5 separate regions of the Homo sapiens genome follow, and regions 1, 2, 4 and 5 are each linked to region 3. The links come from fine-mapping of genetic effects on gene expression. A gene starts in region 3. Each other region holds a variant in brackets. All regions are shown on one strand. Distances are from middle to middle. Region 1 overlaps PRORP (protein only RNase P catalytic subunit). Region 2 overlaps PRORP (protein only RNase P catalytic subunit). Region 3 holds the start of PPP2R3C (protein phosphatase 2 regulatory subunit B''gamma). Region 4 has its middle 29 kb from the start of PSMA6. Region 5 overlaps PRORP (protein only RNase P catalytic subunit).

Region 1 (5,104 bases), 29 kb before region 3:
CTGAGAAGTGAGGAGCCCCTCCGCCCGGCAGCCGCCCCGTCTGGGAAGTGAGGAGCGTCTCCGCCAGGCAGCCGCCCTGTCTGGGAGGGAGGCGGAGGTGGGGGGGTCAGCCCCCGCCCGGCCAGCCGCCCCGTCCGGGAGGGAGGTGGGGGGCGCCTCCACCCGGCCGCTGCCCCATCCGGGAGGTGGGAGGCACCTCTGCCTGGCCGCCCCTTCTGGGAAGTGAGGAGCCCCTCTGCCCGGCCACCATCCCGTCTGGGAGGTGTACCCAACAGCTCATTGAGAACGGGCCATGATGATGATGGCGGTTTTGTGGAATAGAAAAGGGGGAAAGGTGGGGAAAAGATAGAGAAATCAGATTGTTGCTGTGTCTGTGTAGAAAGAAGCAGACATGGGAGACTTCATTTTGTTCTGTACTAAGAAAAATTCTTCTGCCTTGGGATGCTGTTGATCTATGACCTTATCCCCAACCCTGTGCTCTCTGAAACATGTGCTGTGTCCACTCAGGGTTGAATGGATTAAGGGCGGTGCAAGATGTGCTTTGTTAAACAGATGCTTGAAGGCAGCATGCTCGTTGAGAGTCATCACCACTCCCTAATCTCAAGTACCCAGGGACACAGACACTGCGGAGGGCCGCAGGGTCCTCTGCCTAGGAAAACCGGAGACCTTTGTTCACTTGTTTATCTGCTGACCTTCCCTCCACTATTGTCCTATGACCCTGCCAAATCCCCCTCTGCGAGAAACACCCAAGAATGATCAATAAAAAAAAAAAAAAAAAGATGGATTAACAAAAAAAAAAGAAGAAAAAAAATTAGAGATAACTGATACAAAGATCCTAGCACAAAGATCTTAGCCTGACACTAAGAATTCAGTAAATGGTAACTATTATTCATTTATTCAACAAATTGAGCATCTTTATGTAAAGCACTATTCTGAGTTATGAGGATACAACAGTGTTCTAAACAGGCATTTAAAAATCCCTACCCTTGTGGTGCTTTCACTCTATACAGAGAAAAGATATATAGTAAAAGCTCTGTGTGTGTGTGTGTGTGTGTGTGTGTGTGTGTGTGTGTATGTGTGTGTGTAGCATGTCAGATAAGTGCTATGGAGAAAAATAAAGCAGAGATGGAAAATAGGGAGTGCTGGCAGATTAGAATGGGGATATGAAGGAAAGAGGGGAATCAAGGATGATTCTGACCTTTTTGACCTGAATAGCTAGAAGGAAAAAGTTGTATTTACTGAGATAGGGAAGACTATACATGTGTATAAAGATCGGGAGTTTGGTTCAGTGGTGATCAGAGGCCTTATTCTCAACATCTCAGCTGCTGCTCTTTCACACTGGTAGTTTTCTCTTCCTTCAGAAGTAAGCTGTCTGTCTTCAGCACCAGTATTACTGTTTCTAATCTAGTATCTTATTTACATTATTCTATTCTCTAAGAAGACCAAATGAAAAAGCAATAAAATCGATACATTTAAGCAATAGCTATAGAAAAACTAAATCAAAAATCCTAGGCAGAATCTTTTAAGAAAAATAACACTAAAAGTGTATCACTCTGGGACGTACCTCACTTCCAAATACTGTTTCTAAAAATTCACTTAGTAGATGATTATAAAGAACTCACAACACTTTTCCCATAAATAAAAATTAATTTAAAAATGGCTTGGTTTCCAAGCCAAATGATGCAATGGGTTATAGTATAACAGTAATAATGCCAACCTGAATCTGAGAGAGAAAAGATCACTCGCTGTAAGAAAGATAAGACTCTCTTGCCCTTAGCACAAGAAAAGTCAAGTATCTCCTTTGCACACTCCCACCTTGTTTCAACCTCCTAAAGGTGACTTTATCCCTCTGTCTCTAGCACACTACTCCACACAAAACTTTCCATTTGAGCACCCCCCTCAGATCAGCCCCTCAAAACGTTCTCTATGAAAAATCACCAACCCAACTCTAAAACAGCAGCAGCCAAACACCCATAGCCACACATAATTTTCATTTCCTTGTAAAGCCAAACTCAGCTAGGCTTTAGGAGGAAAGTACACTGCTTCAAGCTAAATCTCATAAAAAAGCCTGGATCCCAGCTGGTAGAATTTCAGTCAAGTGT[T/C]ACATAAAAGAAAAAGAATGAAGAAATAAGGAAAACATTTGACATTGGGAAGGCCACTGCTAGGAGTGACCTGCTTGTCCTTTTAACTTTTTAACCTTCCTAAAATTCTGAATTCATTGATTTTTCTAGAAGCTTTACATTTTTGGCCAGAATTCTTGCACCGACATACCTGAATGGTAATTGTTTTAGGGCACCAGAAACCGTGCTGCTGTAAGACAGTAAACTTAATCAATAAATGTTGTGTGACTTCTGATTGCTCCACCAACAGCCATTTCCCCATCTTTCTCCCTCTGTTCAGGCCTCCCTATTACCTGAGACACAACAATACTGAAATTAGGCCAATTAATAATTCTACGATGGCCTCTAGGTGTTCAAGTGAAAGGAAGAGTCTCCGGTCTTACACTTTAAATCAAAAGCTTGAAATCACTGAGCTTAGTGAGGAAGGCATGTCAAAAGCTAAGACAGGGCTGGGCATGGTGGCTCACGCCTGTAATCCCAACATTTTGGGAGGCCGAGGCAGGCGGATCACTTGAGGCCAGAAGTTCCAGACCAGCCTGGGAAACATGGCGACACCCCATCTCTACTAAAAATTAGCCGGTGTGGTGACACATGCCTGTAATCCCCAGCTACTCGGGAGGCTGAGGCATGAGGATTGCTCAACTGAACCTGGGAGGCAGAGGTTGCAGTGAACTGAGATTATGCCGCTGCACTCCAGCCTGGGTGATAGAGTGAGACTCTGTCTCCCCGCCTTAAAAAACAAAACAAAACAAAACAAAAAAGCTAAGATAGGCCAAAAGCTAGGTACCAAACTTTGCAAATGCAAAGTTCTCGAAAGAAATCAGAAGTGCTACTTCAGTGAACAAATAAATGATAAGAAAGCAAAATAGCCTTATTGCTGATATGAAGAAAGTTTTGGTGGTCTGGATGAAACATCAAACCAGCCACAACATTCTCTTAAGCCAAAGCAAGACCTGAATGCTTCAATTCCACAAAGGCTGACAGAGGTGATGAAGCCGTAGAAGAAAAGTTGGAGGCCAGCAGAATTTGGCTCAAGAGGTTTAAGAAAATAAGCAATCCCCATAACATAAAAATGCAAGGTGCCAGTCATGGTTGCTCACACCTGTAATCACAGTACTTTGGGAGGCTGAAGCAAGAGGATCACTTGAGGTCAGGCGTTCGAGACCAGTCTGGGCAACATAGCAAGATCCTATCTCTACAAAAAATTTAAAAATGATCCAGGTATGGTGGTATGCCTGTAGTCCTAGCTACTTGGGAGGCCTAGATGGGAGGATTACTTGAGCACAGGAGTTCGAGGCCCCAGTGGACTATGATCATAGCACCACACTCCAGCCTGGATGACAGAATGAGACACTGTATTAAAAAAAAAAATTAGGCCGGGCGCGGTGGCTCACGCTTGTAATCCCAGCACTTTGGGAGGCCGAGGCGGGCGGATCACGAGGTCAGGAGATCGAGACCATCCTGGCTAACACGGTGAAACCCCATCTCTACTAAAAATACAAAAAAATTAGCCGGGCGTGGTGGCGGGCGCCTGTTGTCCCAGCTACTCGGGAGGCTGAGGCAGGAGAATGGCGTGAACCTGGGAGGCGGAGCTTGCAGTGAGCCGAGATTGCGCCACTGCACTCCCACCTGGGCCACAGAGCGAGACTCCGTCTCAAAAAAAAAAAAAAAAAAAAAAAAATTAAAAAGTGCAACATGTAGGCTGCTGGGAGGTTATGGGCACAGACTGGTGGAACCAACACAAAAAACAAAAAAAGTGCAAGGTGAAGCAGCAAGTACTCATGTAGAAGCTGCAGCAAGCTATCCAGAAGATCTAAGATCACTGATGAAGGTGGCTACACTAAGCAACAGATTTTCCGTGGAGACAAAACAGCCCCTTCTATTGGAAGAAGATGCCATCTAGAATTTTCATAGCTAGAGAGAAGTCAATGCTTGACTTCAAAACTTCAAGGGACAGGCTGACTCTCTTGTTATGGGCTAATACAGCTGGTGACTTTATTGAAGTCAATGCCCGTTTACCATTCCAAAAATCTTAGAGTCCTTAACAATTATGCTGAATCTCCTCTGCCTATGCTCTATCAATGGAACAAAGCCTGGCTAACAGCACATCTGTCTACAGCATGGTTTACTGAATATTTCAAGCCCACTGTGGAGACCTACTGCTCCAAAAAAAAGACTCTTCAAAATATTATTGCTCAGTGACAATGCACTTAGTCACCCAAGAGCTCTTATGGAGATGTATAAGGAGATGAAAGTTGTTTTCATGTCTACCAACACAACATCCATTCTAAAGCCCATGGATAAAAGAGTAAATTCGACTTTCTAGTCTTATTATTTGAAAAACATGTTTTGTAAGGCTATAGCTGTCATAGACAGTGATTGCTCTGAAGGATTTGGGCAAAGTCAACGGAAAACTTTCTGGAAAGGATTCACCGATCTACATGCCACTAAGAACATTTGTGATTCATGGAAAGAGGTTGAAATATCAACAGTAACAGGTTTGGAAGAAGTTGACACCAACCCTCATGGATGACTCGGAGGGATTCAAAATTTCAGTGGAAGAAGGAACTGCAGATATGGTGGAAATAGCAAGAGAACTAGAATTAGAAGTGGAGCCTGAAGATGTGACTGAATTGCTTCAATCACAAAATAAAACTTGGATTAGGAATTTCTTCTTATGGATTAGCAAAGAAAGTGGTTTCTTGAAATAAAACTCACTCCTAGTAGACACGTTGTAAATATTGTTAAAATGATAACAAAGAATTTAGAATATTACGTAAACTTAGTTGACAAGGCAGCAGCAGGATTTCAGAGGATTGACTCCAATTTTGAAAAAAGTTCTAATGTGGTAAAATGCTTTCAAAAAGCACTGCATGCTGCAGAAAAATATTTTGTGATAAGAAGAGTCAATTTATGTGGCAAACTTCATTATTGTCTTATTTTAAGAAATTGCCACACAGTGGCTCATGCCTGTAATCCCAGCA
Region 2 (5,104 bases), 94 kb before region 3:
TCAAAACTTGCTAGAAAGCTACACTAATTAAGACTGTGTGGTACTGGCATAAAGACAGACAAACAGATCAATGGAATAAAATTGAGAGTCCAGAAATAAACCTTCACATTTATGGTGAATTCATTTTTAAGAAGGGTACCAAGATAATTCAAGTAGGAGAAAAATAGTCTTTTCAACAAATAGTGCCAGGACAACTAGATATCCATATACCAAAAAGTGAAGTTGGACTCATACCAAGTACAAAAATCAACTCAAAGAGAAAAAAAACCTAAATGTAAAACTATAAAACTCCTAGAAAAAAAGATGTAAATCATTGTTACTTTGGATTAAACAATGGTTTCTTTTCTTTTTTTTTTTTTTTTTGAGACAGAGTCTTGCTCTGTCACCCAGGCCGGAGTGCAGTGACACAATCTTGGTTCACTTCAACCTTTGCCTCCCAGGTTCAAGTGATTCTCCTGCCTTAGCCTCCCAAATAGCTGGGATTACAGGTGCCTGCCACCACGCCAGGTTAATTTTTGTATTTTCAGTAGAGATGGGGTTTCACCATGTTGGCAAGGCTGGTCTAGAACTCCTGACCTCAGGTGATCTGCCCACCTTGGCCTCCCAAAGTGCTGGGATTACAGGCGTGAGCCACTGCGCCCACCCTAGACAATGGTTTCTTAAGGTACAAAACCAAAAAGACAAGTTATGAAAGAAAAAAAATAGATTGGACATCATCACAATTAAAAACTTTTGTGCTTCAAAAGTCATCTTCAAGAAAGTGAAGCCAAAAACAGAATGGGGGGAAAATTTTGCAAATATATATCTGAGAAGGACCTAATATCCAAAATGCATAAAGAACTCTTACAATTCAATAATAAAAGAAAATCAATCCAATTTTAAAATAGGCAAAGGATCTGAATGGACATTTCTCCATAGACTATACACAAATGGCTAATAAGCATATTAAAAGATGCTCAACATCATTAGCCATCAGAGAAACACGAGTCAAAAATCACTTACGATACCACTTCACACCTATTAGTACGACTATAATAAAAAAGACAGTTAACAACAAGTGCTAGCAAGGATATGGAGAAATTAGATCCTTTATATACTGCTGGTGAGAATGTAGAATGGTACAGCCCTTTGGAGAAAAAAGTCTGACAGTTTCTCAAAAACCTAATAGAAGAATTACTATATGAACTGACAATTCTACTCCTACATATATACTAAAGAGAAATAAAAACACATGTCAACACAAAAACAGGCACAAAAATGTTCATACAGTAGTATTATTCATGATAGCCAAAAAGTAGGAACAACTCAACTGATGAATGGATAAATAAAATGTGATATACCAGTGTGGACAACCTAGTGAGACCTCATCTCTACTAAAAATAAAAAAATTAGCCAGGTGTGGTGGCACGTGCCTCTGGTCCCAGCTACTTGGGGGCTGAGGCGGGAGGATTGCTTGAGCCCAGGAGGTTGAGAATGCAGTGGGCTGTGATCATGCCACTCTATTCCAGCCTGGGCAACAGAACAAGACCTTGTCAAAACAACAACAACAACAAAAAAAACCCAGAAAGGAAAAAGACAAAAACAAATAAAATGACACACACGCACACATAATTTATATATTTTCTCAATTTTATGGGAAGAAGTTGAATAAGAGTGAAAATACATCAAAATGTTAAAACTATCTCTCTCTCTCCTTCTCTCTCTCTAATATAAATGTATTATATAAATATATTATATATTATATATAAATATAAATATATACATATATGTAATTTATATTTAAAGCTAGAGTCTTACGGTTGGGTGCGGTGGCTCATGCCTATAATCCCAGCACTTTGGGAGGCCGAGGCAGGTGGATCATTTGAGGTCAGGAGTTCAAGACCAGGCTGGCCAACGTGGTGAAACCCGGTCTCTACTAAAAATACAAAAATTAGCCAGGCGTGGTGGTGGGCACCTGTAATCCAAACTACTCAGGAGGCTGAGGCAGGAGAATTGCTTGAACCCAGGAGGTGGAGGCTGTGGTGAGCCGAGATCATGCCACTGCATTCTAGTCTGGGCGACAGGGTGAGACCCTGTCCCCCCAAGAAAAAAAAAAAGAGAGATAGAGTCTTACTCTGTCACCTGGGCTGGAGTGCAGTGGTGAAATAATTGCTCAATCATAGCTCACTGAAACCTGGAATTCCTGGGCTCAAGCAATCCTTCCGCCTCCAAGCCAACAAAACAGCTAGGACTATAGGCAGACGCCACCATTCCCAGATAATTTTTAATTTTTTTTTTTGAGTCACGGTCACTTTGTTGCTTAGGCTGGTTTCAAATTACCAGCCTCAAGTGATCCTCCTGCAGTGCTGGGAGCCACCACATCTGACAAAACTGTCTATATTTGCCTGGTAAAATTATGTGTATTTTTTATTTTTTTCTTTGAAACTTACTTAAGTGTCAGTAACATCAGGAATTGGTTTATATCGCCTCATCTAAATAAAGGAAGGAATTAGACACTATTTCTCAAAGGTTGGGAGTCTGAAGACACAAAATTAAGCTGAGATTCTACCATTGTTCAGTTCCTTTCAAGAAGATGCTAAAGTACTGAGAAATACCACAGCACCCTCTTTTGGAAGAAATGCATTGTTCTTCACAGGCAACCTGCTTGAATCATTAAGTTTTTAGAGCTGAAAGAATCTTTAGAGAATATTAAGTCTGGTCTCCTCATTATCTCCTTATAAATAAGGAAACTGGGGTTTGAACAGGAAAAGAGACCACCGAAGATCATAAAAGGAGGTAGCAACAGAGCTGAGAATGAAGCCCCACATCAAATCCTAACCAGAGCTTATTTTTCTGATCTTGCCATTCTTTATTCAATAAATATTTTAAGGTTAAAAAAAAATGCTTTCCCAATCCTCAGAAAGTCTGAAGGCCTATACTCAAAAGGCACTCAAGACACCCACCTTTGTTTTGTTTTGAGATGGGAGTCTCGCTCTGTCGCCCAGGCTGGAGTGCAGTGGCACGATCTCGGCTCACTGAAACCTCTGCCTCCTGGGTTCAAGCGATTCTCTTGCCTCAGCCACCC[A/G]AGTAGCTGGGATTACAGGTGTGCACCACCACACCCAGATAATTTTTGTATTTTTAGTAGAGATGCAGTTTCGCCATGTTGGCCAGGCTGGTCTCGAACTCCTGGCCTCAGATGATCCACCCACCTCAGCCTCACAAAGTGTTGAGATTATAGGCGTGAGCCACCACACCCGGCCCCAGCTTTGTTTTGGGGTGCCAGGAACCACACCCATGTAAGATGGAGAAAAGTCTTATTTTAGAAAAACATGTCCATTCTTGCCCTGCTGCTTAAGAAGTCAGAGTAATAGATAACTTATATAACCACACAACCTCTGCATTTGTCTACTAATAATACATCTTTTTAAGATGCAACAGAAGATAAGCATATAAATCATTCCATTTAACTTCAGAAAACAAAATCGTAATATGAGAATACACTCAATATTTGTTTGGGGCTTCTGACCACATAATTGACCTAATGTACTGGGATATTATTCTAAACTCCTACAATTTCATTATTTAGGCTGGTTTACAAATGGCTACCCATAAAAAATACAACTCTTCTTCAAAAATAATACAGGGCTTGTCATTTCAGCTTTTCTCATTCTCCTGCTCCTAGATCTGAGAAGTACCCTTGCTTCCCAGACAGTATTCTTTGAAAGAACATGCTGTTTTCCTCTTATTTGAAGGATGACTCACTAAAATAAACAAATGAACATTCTGACAAGTGATGAATAAAGAATGTGTGGCTTTTATCATCATCACCATTAACAGTCTTTAAAGTGTACTAAGCAGATGCACAGGGAATATGATACAGGTATACATTATTTTATTGCACATTACTTTACAGATATTCATTTTTTACAAATTGAAGATTGGTGGCAGTCCTGTGTTTAGCAAGTCTATTAGTACCATTTTTCCAACAGCACTTCTTGTCTTTATGTCACATTTTGGTACTTCTCACAATATTTCCAATTTTTCATTATTATTATATCTGTCATAGTGATCTGTGATCTTGGATGTTACTACTGTAATTGTTTTGGGGTGCCATGAACCACACTCACGTAAGATGGAGAATCTAATCGATAAATGTTGTGTGTGTTCTGACTGCTCCACCCATCAGCTGTTCTTCCATCTCTCTCCCTCTCTTCCCTTTCCCCAAGACATAATAATATCAAAATTAGGCCAATTAACCCTGTGATGACCACTAAGTGTTCAAAAGTGAAAGGAAGAGTTGCACATTTCCTACCTTAAATAAAAATCTACAGATGATTAGTGAGGAGGGCATGTTGAAAGCCAAGACAGGTCAAAAGCTAGGCCTTTTGTGCCAGTTACCCAAGTTGTGTATGCAAAGAAAAAGGTTTTTTTCCTTTATTTTTATTTTATTTTTTTTAAGGAGACAGGATCTCACTCTGCAGACTGGAGTGCAGTTGTGCAATCACAGCTCACTGCAGCCTTGAACTCCTGGGCTGAAGTGATCCTCCCACCAGCTTTCCAAGCTAGGACTATAGGAATGAGCCACCGTGCCCAACCAGGAAAAGTTCTTGAAGGAAATTTAAAGTGTTATGCCAGTGAACACGCAAACGATAAAGAAAGCAAAACAGCCTATTGCTGAGATGAAGTTTTTGTGGCCTGGGTAGAAGACAAAACCAGCCACAACATGCCCTTACACCAAAACGTAATCCAGAGCAAGGCCCTAAACTCTCTTCAATTCTATGAAGTTTGAGAGAGGCAAGAAAGCTGCAGAAGAAAAGCTGGAAGTTGGCAGAGGTTGGCTCATGAGGTTTAAAGAAAGTAGGCATCTCCATGACATAAAAGTGTAAGACGAAGTAGCAAGTGCTGATGGAGAAGCTGCAGTGAGTTATTCCGAAGACCTAGCTAAGATCATTGATAAAGGTGGCTATACTAAACAACAGATTGGCAATGGAGACAAAAAAGCCTTCTATTAGAAGATGCCATCTAGGACTTTCATAACTAGAGAAGAGAAGTCAATGCCTGGCTTCAAAGCTTCAAAGGAGAGGCTGACTCTCTTGTAAGGGCTAATGTAGCTGTTGTCTTTAAG
Region 3 (5,104 bases):
TTTATTTGAATAGTTATCATCCTTTATGTCTTTTCCAAAATCAAAGAAAGCTTTTAAAGTTTCCAACATAGGAACAATATCATGACCTAGCAATTCCTGATATAAATTCCAAGCTGTGTTTACATCTTGATGAAGGAGAGCTCCCTGGATACAGTCATTATAGTTCTTTTTTGAAGGAGTTATAACTTTTTTGATGTCCTCTAACAGCAACAATGCTTCTCTCCATCTGTCTGAATGGATCAATCCCCGGATGAGAAGACTGTAACCTCTAGGTTCTAAAGTCTTATATCTGGCTTTCATAATTTCAAAGACATCAATAACTTCAGATGTCTGCATATGAAAGACACAGAGATACAAATACTTGACCAGTAAATCGTAACTTACAATACCATTATTTTTGGCTGCTACCCATGCCAGCAGAGATTTAGCCACATCTATAGAGCTATGACAGCCAGCCATCTGTGAAATGATCCAACTTTCGAAACTGGTCTTTCCGGTGTTTTCTTTTAAATCTTCCTTAAGTTTATCCCACTCCTCTGAATTCAAAGGTTGTGTTGGGAGTTGAATAGTGTTCCTCACAGGTGCCAAGGCATGATCTTCAGTTTGAGAATTCATCTGTGATCTCTCCTTAGCTGCTCCAGCTAAAAAAAAATGAGGAACAGAATAAACTTGCTTATTACTGCCCTCATCTTTCCTGAGATATCTGGCCTTGGCAATCAGATTCGTTGCTTTGGTATTCTGTGGAGACATTGTTTTAAGAGAAAACAACCTCTGCTGGTTCCTGATGCCACAGCGGTCTGCCAGAAACAGCGAGACATAAGAGTGCCCTGGGCCTAGCCCAAGGTATGGGCTCTTCCAAAGCTTCGGAAAGCTTCGAATACCAAACAAATAGAAAGTCATTATGCAGTGAGATCAGCACCAGATAGTGAGAGAGATGTTGAAAAAACCCCTCTTCTATGGCAAAATTAAAGAGATTGGGGGTCGGCGGTGCAGAGTCGAAGTGGAACTTTTTAAAAGGTTTGTGTTTCTTCCTTACAGACAAATCAAGGTTCTGCTTTTGGGGCTACTTAAAAGCAAGAAGGCAGGTGAGTTTTCTCTATTAAACAACAATCCGGGGATGTCCAACGTCGCAAGCCGCAAACCAGGGGACAGAGCAGGAATCCTCTGGTGCCTCTTACATTCCAGTTCATGAACCTGAGGAAAAAGCACAAGACGGAACGCCCAGTTTTACTCACGTGGATCACAGCTGTCCTGAAAAGGAACAGATTCCCACGGGAAGCTTGCTGGAAAGGGGGTGTAAAGCCAAAACCGTATCCAGGGACCCCCAACTCCAGCCTACCACCAACAGCGGCGAAAGCCGAAGTCTAGGGGCCCTCACCCTGCATAGCTCTCTACAGACCGCAAAACTCCTCCGGTGGGGGGACGAGGAGGGAGGAGGTGGCGAGTCAGCTGCGCCAACGACTCAGGAAAGGAAGAGAGGTACAGGAAGGGCGCTGCCTAGACTGCGTACCGAACGCTGACAAATGAAGTTCACTTCATTCAACAACTCAAAGCGGCACTCAGACTTAACGCGGCCATAAACGCGGCGGAAACTACAGTGCCCACGATGCACCGCGCCAGCCCCGACCGACGGACGAGACTGACCCGGACTTAGGCGTTCCGCCTGGCCCGGCGGCGAGGAAAAAAGGCAGTTTTGAAGCATTTAGTGGCAAAAGGGGTAGGAGACGGCTGCTGAAGTGTCTACTACATTCAGGGGACCTGGAAGGCTTCCAGATATCCGCAATGAACAATGAAAAGAAATTGTGAAAGAAGGCGCTTCCCTCAAGCCGGAACTAATGAACTCCTGGGTCACGTGGTGCGCACGCGCCAAAGGCACACGATAAAGGAAAACGCGGGCTTATCGTGGCCTTTAAAATCCGGCTTGGTGAGCTTGGGTCGCCTCTGAAGGAGAACCATTTTCCATCTCTTTCATAGTTTTTTCCCCCAGTCAGCGTGGTAGCGGTATTCTCCGCGGCAGTGACAGTAATTGTTTTTGCCTCTTTAGCCAAGACTTCCGCCCTCGATCAAGATGGTGGTTGGACGGCCTTCCTAACCTTTACGGGGCCTGGCGGTGCTGACGCCTGAGCTGGTAGGGGTGGAGCAGGTAGGAAACAGCAAATGCAGAAGCTGCTGCGCGGAAGTCGGCCATGGACTGGAAAGAAGTTCTTCGTCGGCGCCTAGCGACGCCCAACACCTGTCCAAACAGTGAGTTTTGGGAGGGGCAGCCCGTTGGGATGGCCCGGCCCTAAACTCCTAGAGGTAGGGGGGAGGTGGGGAGGAGGAGCAAGGGGGAGCCGCCTTTTCCGCTTCTGTGAAACCTCCCGACAAAGGAGGCGGAGTGGAATGTGGTTTAAGGATCCCGATAGGTTTGACCCAAACTTTCCTGGGGCAGAATCTAGAGGAACGAAAAACTTAGCTTTAGTCACTGACTTCCATGGTCTTAATCTAAACTTGTGAAGAATAACTTGGAACCCCGGCTCCAACAACGCCTGAACCCCACCAGGACCTATAATTGTCCTCCTGCCTTTTTACTGTCACGCTTTTTGCTTCCCTCGTAATCCATTTTATATTTCATAATCCATTTTTCCTTTTATTTTTCTCCTTCACATTGCTTATTAACTAACCTCGTTAAATCTACCTTTCCTATTCCACACCCGCACTAAGGGCTGTTGAAAGTGGCTGGAGAAAAACAGAACCTTGGTGAGTTGTCTCACTTTTTTTTTTGAGACGGAGTCTCTTGCTCTGTCGCCCAGGCTGGCTGGAGTGCAGTGGCAGCATCTCCGCTCACTGCAACCTCTGCCTCCCGGGTTCAAGCGGTTCTTCTGCCTCAGCCTCTGGAGTAGCTGGAACTATAAGCGCGCGCAACCACGGCCGGTTAATTTTTGTATTTCTAGTAGAGACGGGGTTTCGCCATATTGGCCAGGCTGGTCTCAAACTCCTGACCTTGTGATTCGCCCACCTCGGCCTCCCAAAGTGCTGGAATTACAGACGTGAGTCACCGCGCCCCGCCGAGTTATCTCACTTTTAATACAAGTCCACTAATCTAAAGAAGGTGTTTTGGTCATGTCTACCGTGTTTTCCTGGACGTTCATTCTCCTACATTCAATTTTCATCTCCCAAACTGCCAATCTGTGTTTTCCTAAATACACTTTTTTTTTTCCGATACAGGATCTCCCTGTGTTGCCCAGGCTGGAGTGCAGCGGCGCAGTGAAGTATTGCTGCAACCTCGATTTCCTGGGCTCAAGGGATCTTCCCACCCCAGCCTCTTGAGCAGCTAGAAGTACAGGCACACGCCACCACACCCGGCTAATTTTTTATTTTTAGTGGAGATGAGGTCTTGCTATGTTGCCTGGGCTGGTCTCGAATTCCTGGCCTCAGGCAGTCTTCCTACCTCCACCTCCCAAAGTGTTGCTATTACAGACGTGAGCCGCCGCACCCAGGCAACACTCTTTTACACTATTCTTCTCATCTCCTACACCTGCAGTCTGTCCTACCCGCTTCTTACTTTAAGCTGATGAACTTGTATTTTAATATATATCTCATTAAGAAAGGAGAAGCAGTCGGCCGGGCGCGGTCGCTCAGTCCTGTAATCCCAGCACTTTGGGAGGCCGAGGCGGGCGGATCACGAGGTCAGCAGATCGAGACCATCCTGGCTAACACGGTGAAACCCCGTCTCTACTAAAAATACAAAAAAATTACCCGGTAGTGGTGGCGGGCGCCTATAGTCCCAGCTACTCCAGAGGTTGAGGCAGGAGAATACCTTCAACCCGAGAGGCGGAGCTTGCAGTGAGCCCGAGATTGTGCCACTGCACTCCGGCCTGGGCGACCGAGCGACACTCAGTCTCAAAAAAAAAGGAGAAGCAGTCAGAGGAGAACATCACCTGTCCCCCTTAACATTTCTTTCAGCCCCACAACCCCACAGTTAGTTGCCCATACACTCTGGCTTCACTGTTAAAATGATGAACTGATGCCGGGCGCGGTGGCTCAAGCCTGTAATCCCAGCACTTTGGGAGGCCGAGGCGGGCGGATCACGAGGTCAGGAGACTGAGACCGCAGTGAAACCCCGTCTCTACTAAAAATACAAAAAATTAGACGGGTGCGGTGGCGGGCGCCTGTAGTCCCAGCTACTCAGGAGGCTGAGGCAGGAGAATGGCGTGAACCCGGGAGGCGGAGGTTGTAGTGAGCCGGAGATTGTGCCACTGCACTCCAGCCTGGGCGACAGAGCGAGACTCCGTCTCAAAAAAAAAAAAAAAAAAAGATGAACTGTCCATGCTCCTATTTAAGAGTCCCTCCAGTCCACCACTAGATTGCATTCTTTTCCCTGTATTCACTGACTTCCTTCCAGCCTCCTCCTTTCTTTCCTACATCATCAGATTTTCCTTCTGCTGGATCATTTACACCAGCACAAACGTGCTGTTAATATCACCCATCTTTTTAAAAGGTGGGTGGTCGGGGGTAGTGGTGTTGGGAGGCTCGGTGGCTCATTCATGTAACCCCAGCACTTTGGGAGGCCGAGATGGGAAGATCGCTTGAGGCCAGGAGTTTGAGACCAGCCTGGGCAACATAGTGAAACACCGTTTCTACAAAAATAGAAAGTAAAAAATTAGCCCGGGTGGTTGTGCACCACTGTAGTCCTAGCTACTCGAGAGGCTGAAGCAGGGAGGGTTGTTTCAGTCTAGGAGTTTGGGGCTGCAGTGAGCTATGATCATGACACTATACTGCAGCCTGGGTGACAAGAGCCAGACCCTGTCTTAAAAAAAATTCATTTGGGCTGGGCACTGTGGCTTACACCTGTAATCCCAACACTTCGGGAGGCCGAGGTAGGCAGATCACTTGAGGTCAGGAGTTCAAGACCAGCCTGGCCAACATGGTGAAAGTCCGTCTCTACTAAAAATACAAAAAGTAGCTGGGCGCAGTGGTGCACACCTGTAATCCCAGCTACTTGGGAGGCTGAAGCGGGAGAATCGCTTGAACCCAGGAGGCAGAAGTTGCGGTGAGCTGAGATTACGACACTGCTCTCCAGCCTGGGCGATAGAACGAGACTACATCTCAAAAAAAAAAAAAA
Region 4 (5,104 bases), 200 kb before region 3:
AATAGTATAAGTCTATTATTCTTTATCCAAAAGGCATGGGGCCAGGTTCTTTTCTTTCTTTCTTTCTTTTTAAACAGAGTCTCACTCTGTGGCCCAGGCTGGAGTGCAGTGGTGCAATCTTGGCTCACTGCAACCTCTGCCTCCCAGGTTCAAGCGATTCTTGTGCCTCAGCCTCCCGAGTACCTGGGACTACAGGCGTGCGCCACCACGCCTAATTTTTTTTTGTATTTTTAATAGAGACGGGGTTTTGCTATGTTACCCAAGCTGGTCTCGAACTCCTGAGCTCAGGCAATCTGCCCACCTCGGCCTCCCCAGCGAGGATTATAAGCATGAGCCACCACGCCTGGCACAGATGCGTTCGGAATATAATGTATTTTGGATTTTAGAGTGGTAATATGATGTCTAAACCATATATTCCATAACTCTACCACTGGAGTCTGGGGCAGCACCCTATAATTAAGCACATTCATATTTCTGCAGAAATAAAGTGAGATATAAAAAGCCAGTTGAGTTTTAAGAACTTCCTGAATTTTGGAACTGTAGACAAGCAAATTATAAATGTTCAACTTAAACCAGTTTAAAGGATATTGTATCTAAAACAGGGCCTGTCCCAATAAAGACTAATACTTTATTAGGTCACTTTCTTATTTTTTTAGGTAAATAATCTAAATAGTAGATTATAATTCTATCTCCATTCCAATACCTCTTAATTTCATTTCTTATTGTATCAGCTGGAATTTCCAGAATGTAAAATAAATGGAGTTAGAAGCCATCTTGGAGCCAGGTATGGTGGCTGTAATCCCGCCTGTAATTCCAACACTGGGAAGCTGAGGCAGGAGGATGGCTTGAGCCCAGGAGTTGGACACCAGTCTGGGCAACATGGCGAGACCCTGCCTCTACAAAAATAAAACAGGCTTGGCGTGGTGGCTCACGCCTGTAATCCCAGAACTTTGGGAGGCCGAGGCAGGTGGATCACGAGGTTAGGAGTTGGAGACCAGCCTGACCAACATGGTGAAACCTCGTCTCTATTAAAAATACAAAAATTAGCTGGGCGTGGTGGCACGCGCCTGTAATCCCAGCTACTCAGGAGGCTGAGGCAAGAGAATCACTTGAACCTGGGAGCGGAGGTTGCAGCGAGCCGAGATCGTGCCCCTCCACTCCAACCTGGGTGACAGAAGGAGACTCCGTCTCAAAGAATAAAAATAAATAAAAATAAAAAAATTTAAACTAATTCACCATTATGATGTTAATTAGCTTAGCTGTCATTTTAGATTTTTGTTTGTTTTTTTGAGACAGGTGTCTCATTCTGTCCCCCAGACTGGAGTGCAGTGGCGTGACCACAGCTTACTATAGCCTCGACCTCTTGGGCTCAAGTGATCCTCTCACCTCAGCCTCCTGAGTAGCTAGACTACAGGTGTGTGCCCCTACGTGAAGATCCTTAATGTAATAATTTGGTTGTGTCACAAATCTGGATCTTGGATTTGGAGGCTAGTGAGGGAGCTGAGTACCTGGTTTGTTGCTGACTTGTAACCTAAATGGTACAGTAACTGCTTATGAAAAATGAGGTATCAAGAGAAGGAAAGCCTCATGTCTACCCAAATAGCTTCACGTTCATGAATGTCTGGACATATCCTCTGAGTGTCAGAATTATTATATTTCTCATATTTAAAAAATCATATCTGTATTTTTTTTTGAGACAGTCTAGCTCTCTTGCCTAGGCTGAAGTGCAGTGGCGGGATCTCGGCTCACTGCAACCTCTGCCTCCCGGGTTCAAACGATTCTCCTGCCTCAGCCCCCTAAGTAGCTGGGACTACAGGTGTGCGCCCCCATGCCCAGCTAATTTTTGTATTTTTTAGTAGAGATGGGGTTTTACCAAGTTGGCCAGGCTGGTCTCGAGCTTCTGACCTCAAGTGATCCACCCCCCTTGGCCTCCCAGTGCCAGGATTACAGGCATAAGCCACTGTGTTTGGCCTCATATCTGTATTCTTATATTTATTGATTGATTTTTAGATGGAGTCTCACTCTGTTGCCCAGGCTGGAGTACAGTGGTCCGATCTCAGCTCACTGCAACCTTGGCCTCCCGGGTTCAAGTGATTCTCCTGCCGCAGCCTCCTGAGTAGCTGGAATTACAGGTGCACGCCACCACATCTGGCTAATTTTTGTATTTTTGTAGATACTGGGTTTCGCCATGTTGGCCAGGCTGGTCTTGAACTCCTGACCTGAAGTGATCCGCCTGCCTGGGCCTCCCAAAGTGCTGGGATTACAGGCGTGAGCCACTGTGCCTGGTATGTGTATTTCTTACTAATCAAAATGTTCTTTGAGTAAAGATATTTAAAGATTTCAGGCATTTTTCTTGGCATTTTGTATAACCTTTCTGCATTAACCCTTTGTTATCCATTCCAGGTAGTTTGTTTAGAAAACAAAACAAGAAACAGATTGATTGAGACAGAGTTTCACTCTTGTTGCCCAGGCTGGGGTGCAATGGCATGATCTTGGCTCACTGCAACCTCCACCTCCCAGGTTCAAGCGATTCTCCTGCCTCAGCCTCCCGAGTAGCTGGGATTACAGGCATGTGCCACCATGCCCGGCTAATTTTTTTTTAGTATAGACAGGGTTTCGCCATGTTGGTCAGGCTGCTTTTGAACTCCCGATCTCAGGTGATCTGCCTGCCTCAGCCTCCCAAAGTGCTGGGATTACAGGCATGAGCCACTGCGCCCAGCCAGAATTAGAGTATTTAATGTCCACCCTTTTATTTTCATTATTAGAGAAAGGGTCTTGCTTTGCCACCCAGCCTGGAGTACAGTGTTGTGATCATAGTTTACTACAGCCTTGAATTCCTGGGCTCAAGTGACCCTCCCACTTAAGCCTCCCAAGTAGCTAGGACTCCAGGTGTGTGTGCACCACCACA[A/C]TTGACCTAATTTTAAATTTTTCTGTAGAGACAAAATGTTGCCACACTGGTCTTGGGCTCCCAGTGTATTGGGGACTATAGGCATGAGCTACTGTACCCAGCCTAATGTTCACCTATTTAAAATGATCTATTTCTTCTCATTCTTTTAATTAAGCATAAACAACCAATATTTAAAACTATTCTATATTTAATCCTAATTCATCTAGATTTTGCCTTATAATGTAAAAACTTACTTTCTAACAAATTACAGAATTTTAGTTTTTCACCTCTGAAAAGGAGCCCCTAACAGTAAAACTGAATTAGTTGCTAGTCTCTCATCCACTGATTCTAGGAGGGTGACATCAGTCAAGGCTCTAAGGGTGTGGAAATTCAGCTTGTCTTTAGAGGATTAGCCCTTTTACATAGACCCCACTTTCGAAACGATGGCAGCACTTTCAAAGAGCCTAGTGGATTAGGATGGGTAATCCTAGAACAACCTGGAAGAACAAGGAAGAACCCTGCTTCCTTGTTAGGAAATTTTACTATTCCTGACAGCTCTGAAGAGGATGTGGTTGGTGAAGTTTCCTGCTTCTACTGGTCATATGTTTATGTGGCCTCCCCTTGTGTGGCCCTGGTGGCTGCAGAAACAGGGGCAACTCTAATTTCAGGGACTGGCATGAGACCAGCAGCCACACTCACCTGCATGAGGTCAACAGCACCAGACTTCCTCTGTGCAAAAGAGGACACAAAATGTATTACCCTTAGACTTTCCAAGATTTTTTAATCATCTCTAATTAGTGGTTCAGGTCACCAGTCTAGGGACTTTAAAAAATCCTGTACATTAAAAAAAACATAGGCTACAGCTGAGTGCGGTGGCTTACAGCTGTAATCCCAGCACTTTGGGAGGCCGAGCCAGGTGGATCACGAGGTCAGGAGTTCGAGACCAGCCTGGCCAACATGGTGAAACCCCGTCTCTACTAAAAATACAAAAATAATAATAATAATAATAATAATTAGCCGGGCATGGTGCCAGGTGCCTGTAATCCCAGCTACTCAGGAGGCTGAGGCAGTAGAGTCACTTGATCCCGGGAGGTGGAAGTTGCAGTGAGCCAAGATCACGCCACTGCACTCTAGCCTGGACGATAGAGCAAGACTCTGTCTCAAAAAAAAAAAAAAGTTACCATGAATATACAGTTTGTTCTTTCTTCCTGAACATTGTGATGCTGGGTCTCTAAACTTTAATATAAACCAATTCCTTAATGTTATCTTCAAGTACTTATTATTAAGGAGGCACAGAAACTACACACATTCTATGACTTTTCTAGCCCTGTTTCCTGAAGGTAACTAAAATTTCTACCCTTGAAAATACTGGTTCTTAATGAGTATAAATGCTTTTCTCAAAACTATGGAAGATCATACTAATCCTTTTATTATAGTTAAAGCATTCAGTGGGACTTGGAGTCCACATTCAGTAGTATCTTGTTTGAATGAGAAATTGTAAAATAAAGGCCTTTCCTCACATGCCAACTTACGGTCAGGGTGGATTTCTTTTTGGAGACCGGGTCTTACTCTGTCACCCAAGCTTAAGTGCAGTGGCACAATCACAACTCACTGCAGCATCAGACTCCTGGGCTCAAGTGATCCTCTTGCCTTAGCCTCCTGAGTAGCTGGGACTACAGGTGCAGGCTACCATGCCCAGCTAATTAAAAATTTTTTGTAGAGACGAGGTCTTGCTATGTAGTCCAGGCTCATCACAAACTCCCGGCCTCAAGCAATCCTCTCACTTCAGCCTCCCAAAGTGCTGGGATTATAGGTGTGAGCCACAGCGCCCGGCCAGAGTGGGTTTCAAAACCAAAGTTGTAGTTTGTTATTTAATTATACCATATAGCTAGTTTACATTTCTGGCTTTTTTTTTTTTTTTTAAGATGGCATTTCTGTCACCCAGGCTGGAGTGCAGTGGCACAATCTCTGCTTACTGCAACCTCTATCCCCCGAGCTCAAGCAATTCTCCCTCCTCAGTGTCCTAAGTAGCTGGGACCACAGATGTGCATGCTAAGTTTTTATATTTTTGGTAGAGACAGGGTTTCACCTTGTTGCCCAGGCTGGTCTTGAACTCCTGAGCTCAAGTGATCTGCCCGGCTAAGCCTCCCGAAGTGTTGGGGTTACAGGTGTGAGCCAGCACGCCTGGTGCTGGCTATGAAATGTCTTAAGCCAAGT
Region 5 (5,104 bases), 120 kb before region 3:
ACACAATTTTTTTCAAATATTTTTGATCTGTGGTTGGTTGAATCCACGGGCGAGGGGAACCCACAAATATGGAGGGCTATTTCACACAGCACATCTCAATTTGGTCAGCCACATTTCAAGTGCTCAACAGACCCACTGGCTAGTAGCTACCATATTGGATAATGCAGGGCCAGAGGGACTAATTGAGGAGGCAATTTCAGCAGAATTTGTTGATTTAATCAATGTGGAGGAGGAGGAACAAGGAGGTAGAAATCACTGTGATTGCTGGCTTGGGTAACTCAATAGGTGAAGATATTAAATTTTAAGAACAATCTAATAGCCAGAAAACTGCTATGAACTTCTGATATGTTGTAGAATAAAAAAATGAGGAGATCCAGTGTGATCCTACATGCTAGTCCAAGGATGTTTACTTGAACTAAATGTTGGTTCTTTTCACCTGTATAGCTAATACAGCATAGGAAAAGTGACACCAGCAAAAGAAGGTGGGAGGCACCACAGCTGTCCCTGAAATTATTTGCTGTCTCAAAACACAATTGGTTGCCTTGGAAATGGCTGTAACTACCTGCATGTGTGCATACACATGTAGCTATGGATGGGCGTAAACAAACAAAGATCAAGAAAACCCACCCGGGTAAATTTTAAACCAAAAAAAAAAAAAAAAAAAGATGGTTTAAAAGTTGACCACTGCCCAGGAAGCAGGAACCACAGTATTTTTAAAGAATGCTAAAATAAAAATGTGTATATGCAGAATGCAAGGAAACTGGCATAACTTTGGTGGTAGTGAAATGATTGATGAACCACCAACTCTAATTCCAATCAGTACAACATTCCTACTAAGCTCTTCAACATCTTTTCTAATTTCTTCTTCTTTTTTTTTTTTTTTTGAGATGGAGTCTTACTCTGTCACCCAGGTTGGAGTGCAGTGGCATGATCTCCACTCACTGCAACCTCCGCCTTCCAGGTTCAAGCGATTTTCCTGTCTCAGCCTCCTGAGTAGCTGGGACTACAGGCGCACGCCACCACGCCTGGCTAATTTTTGTATTTTTAGTAGAGACAAGGTTTCACCATGTTGGCCAGGCTGGTCTCAAACTCTTGACCGCAGGTGATCTGCCCGCCTCTGCCTCCCAAAGTGCTGGGATTACAAGCATGGGGCACCGTGCCCAGCCAACTTTTCTAATTTATTCTATAGAGGCCAGAGCAGAAGACCCTTGGTTTTCTTTAGTTGTACAGGGCAGGACAGTTCATGATTTGGCATGACACTGGTATGGCTTCATTCACAGAATGCTTGCAGGCAACGTCTGAAATGCCAAAGAAACAATGTGTCATGTACATGTAACCTGTCAAAGGTCACGAGAATCTTGTTTCTAAAATTTAGACCAGCCATCTAATTTTATGAACACTATACAGTAGTCTGTTCTTGTTCTTCACCAGCTCGTTGCCTGATCTAATAAACTCTTAATTATAAGCTGGTATTCAAATGCTGAGGAGAAAAGGGGCTCCACCTTGATCATGTACTTTGAAAAAATATTGTTTGTTTTTAGGGAAGCAGACATCTCTGGAGAAAGCATAGGAAGTGGATTTAGTGTAGTTTGTTTTTTTTTTTTTTTTCTTGAGACGGAGTCTTACTCTGTCACCCAGGCTGGAGTGCGGTGTTGCAATCTTGGCTCATTGCAACCTCCGCCTCTGGGTTTTCCTGCCTCAGCCTCCCAAGTCGCTGGGATTACAGGCACCTGCCACCACACCTGGCTAATTTTTTTGTATTTTTAGTAGAGACGGGGTTTCACCATGTTGGCCAGGCTGGTTTTGAACTCCTGACCTCAAGAGATCCGCCCGCCTCGCCTCCTAAAGTGCTAGGATTATAGCCGTGAGCCACCACCACACCTGGCCTAGTGTAGTGTTTTGAGAGCTGTTACCTCTGGGCAAGTCACAGCCTTTTAAGCCAGTTTCCTTATATGTAAAGTAAGAAAAATACAACACTTAGTCCATAGGGATGTGTGAGGATCAAATCACTTAATATTAATGAAAGGACTCTATAAGCTGTAAAAGACTACGTGTTGTTATTGTTAGGCTGTAAAAGCACAATGTCATACATTTATATATAGCCTTGTGATGCCTTAAAAAAGCTTTGATATGCCTTACTTCATAGGACTGCTTAAGCACAGTGTCCAGCTTTAATAAGAGTATTTGGTTTCTGGCCCTTCAGATAAAATGCAGAGAAAAAAAGACGTGTTAACTTAGAATGGCTATGTGCACTGTATTTAAAGAGTTTTGTTTGTTTCACTTAATGAATCTTAATCTTAAAAAGGTTAAGATTTTAAGAGAATTAAGAGGTTTAATGACAACAGAGTTGACATATTTTTCCCAAAGTCCTAGACTTTCATTCCTTTAAGCACATTCTTTTCCTCTTTTTTAGATTCCACTGTCATCACTTTAGTTCAAGATGTCATTAGGTCTTTTGGTTGGTCTTTCAATGCTGTTTCTCCTGTGACATTGCCAGGTTAACTTTCCTACAACCTGGCTTTCTTTGTGTCATTTTCCTATACATACTCATCCTCCAAATCCTAATTTCTGGCATTGGTAGGCTGTCCAAACCTACAGGTGTAAACAAATCCAGAGAACTACCCAGTGAGGGGCGGTCTAGATATGTGGGTTTGGGAATTACAAATGCATACCACAGGGCATGATAGTGCGGCACGGTAAAAGACCACAGACTTTGGTGTCAGATTGGCATTTCAATTCTGAATCTGTTACTTTTATTAACGATTCAGGGAAGTGACTTAATTGCACCTCAGTTTTCTCATTTGTAAAATGAGAATCTAATTTCTTCATAGGATTGTTTAAGCACAGTGCCCACCTTTAATACAGTGTTTGGTTTCTGGCCCTTCACATAAAACGCAGAGAAAAAAAAAAAAGATGTGTTAACTTAGAATGGCTATGTGCACTGTATTTAGAGTTTTGTTTGTTTGACTTAATGAACAGATATTATATCTAATTTAAAAATTTAAGGCCAGGCACGGTGGCTCATGCCTGTAATCCCAGCACTTTGGGAGGCCGAGGTGGGTGGAGCACAAGGTCAGGAGATCAAGACCATCCTGGCTAACACAGTGAAACCCCGTCTCTACTAGAAATACAAAAAAAATTAGCCGGGCTTGGTGGCATACGCCTGTAGTCCCAGCGGAGGCTGAGGCAGGAGAATCTCTTGTACCC[G/A]GGAGGCAGAGGTTGCAGTGAGCCGAGATAGCACCACTGTACTCCAGTCTGGGCAACAGAGCAAGACGCTGTCTCAAATAAAAAATAGAAGTTTAAGAAGGTGAAAAGGCAAAATTGGAAAGGGGAACTATAAATATTTTAATATATTCAGATATCTCCCTAGTCAAAACATTAACTGTAAATTGATTTAAGTTACATGGTCATTTTTGCCTGTGGAAGAGGATAGATTTGAAAGAAACAAAACTGAAGATGAGAAACCAGTTAGGAGGCTATGATAGGGATTTAAGCAGGTACTAACAAGGATCTGATGAGAAAGATATGGTAAAAGAAGAAGAGAAAAGAATGGATTTGAGAAACAGAGCTGGGCATAGTGGTTGATGCCTGTAACCCCAGCACTTTGGGAGGTCTAGGTGGGAGGATCGCTTGAGTCTGGGAGTTTGAGATCCGCCTGGGCAACATAGGGAGACTTTGTCTCTACGAAAAATTTAAAAATTAGTTGGATGTGGTGGCGCACGTCTGTGGTCCCAGCTACTCAGGATGCAGAGGCAGGAGGATCATTTCAGCCTAGGAGGTCAAGGCTGCAGTGAGCTGTGATGGCGCCACTGCACTGTAGCCTGGGTGACAGAGCAAGACTCTGTCGAGAGAGAGAAAGAGAGAGAGAGAGAGAAGGAAGGAAGGAAGGAAAGGAAGGAAGGGAAGGAAAGGAAGGAAGAGAAGGAAGGAAGAGAAGGAGGGAAGGAAGGAGTGAAGGAGGGAAGGAGGGAGGGAGGAAGAAAGGAAAGAAAAGAAAGAAAAGAAAAATGAAAGAAAGAAGGAGAAAGAGAGAGAAAGAAAGAAGATGAGAGAGAGAGAGAAATAATTAGGAGGTAAAATTGGCAAGACTTGGTGAACATTTGGTACCACCTATTGGTGTAGATGTCTGGCAGGAAGATGGCAAGTTCAGTTTTGGACATACAGTATTTAGTTTCAAGTACCTGTCTAAGGTAAAGATGCAGAGATAGAACATCAGAGAACACCAACATTTAAGGAGTAAGAGAAGGAAGGGAAGTTCAAAAACAAGAGAGAACAAGGAATGGTCAGAGAGTGTAATGAGAAGGATAAGAATGTGAAGTCACAGAATTCAAAGACATAGACAATTTCAAGAAGAAAGGAATCTATAAAGTATTAAATGCAGAAAAAGAGTGATAAAGACTAAAATATGTTCATCAAAACTGGCAATTAGGAAGTTACTGCTGTCCTGAGGGAGAGCATTTTCAATGCAATGATGGAGACTAAGCCAGACTTCAGTGGGCTTAGGGGTTAGGGAGCAAATGGGTAGCAAGAAAAGAATTGTATACCAGTCTTTTGAGAGGTTTAGATGAGGAGGACAGAAACTAGAGCAAGCTAGCTATTTATGAGTTAGTGATTAAAGCAATGGAGATCCAAGAGAATCAGAAAAGCATGTCTCAAAGAGTCTACCATGGTATTTCAAGAAAACAGATAAATAGATCAGTAGGTTAAAATATAAAGAACAGTGTGTTACACGGGAAAGAACAAGGAATTTGGAATGAGACATGTCTAATCCTGTTACTTTGCCATTTACTAGCTATGAGACAAGTTACTTAACCTTTTCTGGGTCTTAGTTTCCTTATGCTTTTTTTTTTTTTTTTTTTTTTGGAGATGGGGTCTTGCTGTGTTGCCCAGGTTGGAGTGCAGTGGCACAATCTCGGCTCAATGCAACCTCCGCCTCCTGGGCTCAAGATGTCCTCCCACCTCAGCCTCCCCAGTAGCTGGGACTATATGTGTGTATCACTCTGCCTGGCTAATTTTTTGTTTTCTGTTTTTTGTGGTGTTTTTTTGTTTGTTTTTTTGGTAGAGATGGGTTTTGTCACCTTGCCCAGGCTGGTCTCAAAATCCT

What was found. PIP is the estimated chance that this variant, and not a neighbour inherited with it, causes the effect.
Region 1: its variant is fine-mapped to the expression of PPP2R3C in whole blood (INTERVAL, PIP above 0.99).
Region 2: its variant is fine-mapped to the expression of PPP2R3C in monocytes after Pam3CSK4 (Quach 2016, PIP 0.95).
Region 4: its variant is fine-mapped to the expression of PPP2R3C in whole blood (INTERVAL, PIP 0.92).
Region 5: its variant is fine-mapped to the expression of PPP2R3C in lymphoblastoid cells (GTEx, PIP above 0.99).

The regions. Positions count from the first base shown.
Region 1 is chr14:35,147,609-35,152,712 of GRCh38, reverse strand. All of the region lies in intron 4 of PRORP (protein only RNase P catalytic subunit), which reads right to left. All of the region lies in intron 4 of PRORP-PSMA6 (PRORP-PSMA6 readthrough), which reads right to left. Among named protein-coding and RNA genes, the nearest start is that of PRORP, 28 kb to the right of the region's middle. The variant T/C (reference allele first, on the strand shown) is at 2,103.
Region 2 is chr14:35,212,760-35,217,863 of GRCh38, reverse strand. All of the region lies in intron 5 of PRORP (protein only RNase P catalytic subunit), which reads right to left. All of the region lies in intron 5 of PRORP-PSMA6 (PRORP-PSMA6 readthrough), which reads right to left. Among named protein-coding and RNA genes, the nearest start is that of PSMA6, 77 kb to the left of the region's middle. The variant A/G (reference allele first, on the strand shown) is at 3,065.
Region 3 is chr14:35,119,042-35,124,145 of GRCh38, reverse strand. PPP2R3C (protein phosphatase 2 regulatory subunit B''gamma) reads left to right here and starts at 2,156. Exons shown (of 13, transcript NM_017917.4): 1 at 2,156-2,244. The coding sequence starts at 2,187. It overlaps PRORP (protein only RNase P catalytic subunit), which reads right to left and starts at 1,594. Exons shown (of 8, transcript NM_014672.4): 1 at 1,511-1,594; 2 at 1-1,194. The coding sequence starts at 900. It overlaps PRORP-PSMA6 (PRORP-PSMA6 readthrough), which reads right to left and starts at 2,307. Exons shown (of 15, transcript NR_182666.1): 1 at 2,094-2,307; 2 at 1-1,194. RefSeq lists enhancers at 1,101-1,610, 694-1,613, 1,621-1,700, 2,241-2,370, 1,614-2,533 and 1 more.
Region 4 is chr14:35,319,066-35,324,169 of GRCh38, reverse strand. No RefSeq gene overlaps it. Among named protein-coding and RNA genes, the nearest start is that of PSMA6, 29 kb to the right of the region's middle. The variant A/C (reference allele first, on the strand shown) is at 2,909.
Region 5 is chr14:35,235,855-35,240,958 of GRCh38, reverse strand. The region is part of intron 5 of PRORP (protein only RNase P catalytic subunit); the gene reads right to left. All of the region lies in intron 5 of PRORP-PSMA6 (PRORP-PSMA6 readthrough), which reads right to left. Among named protein-coding and RNA genes, the nearest start is that of PSMA6, 54 kb to the left of the region's middle. The variant G/A (reference allele first, on the strand shown) is at 3,208.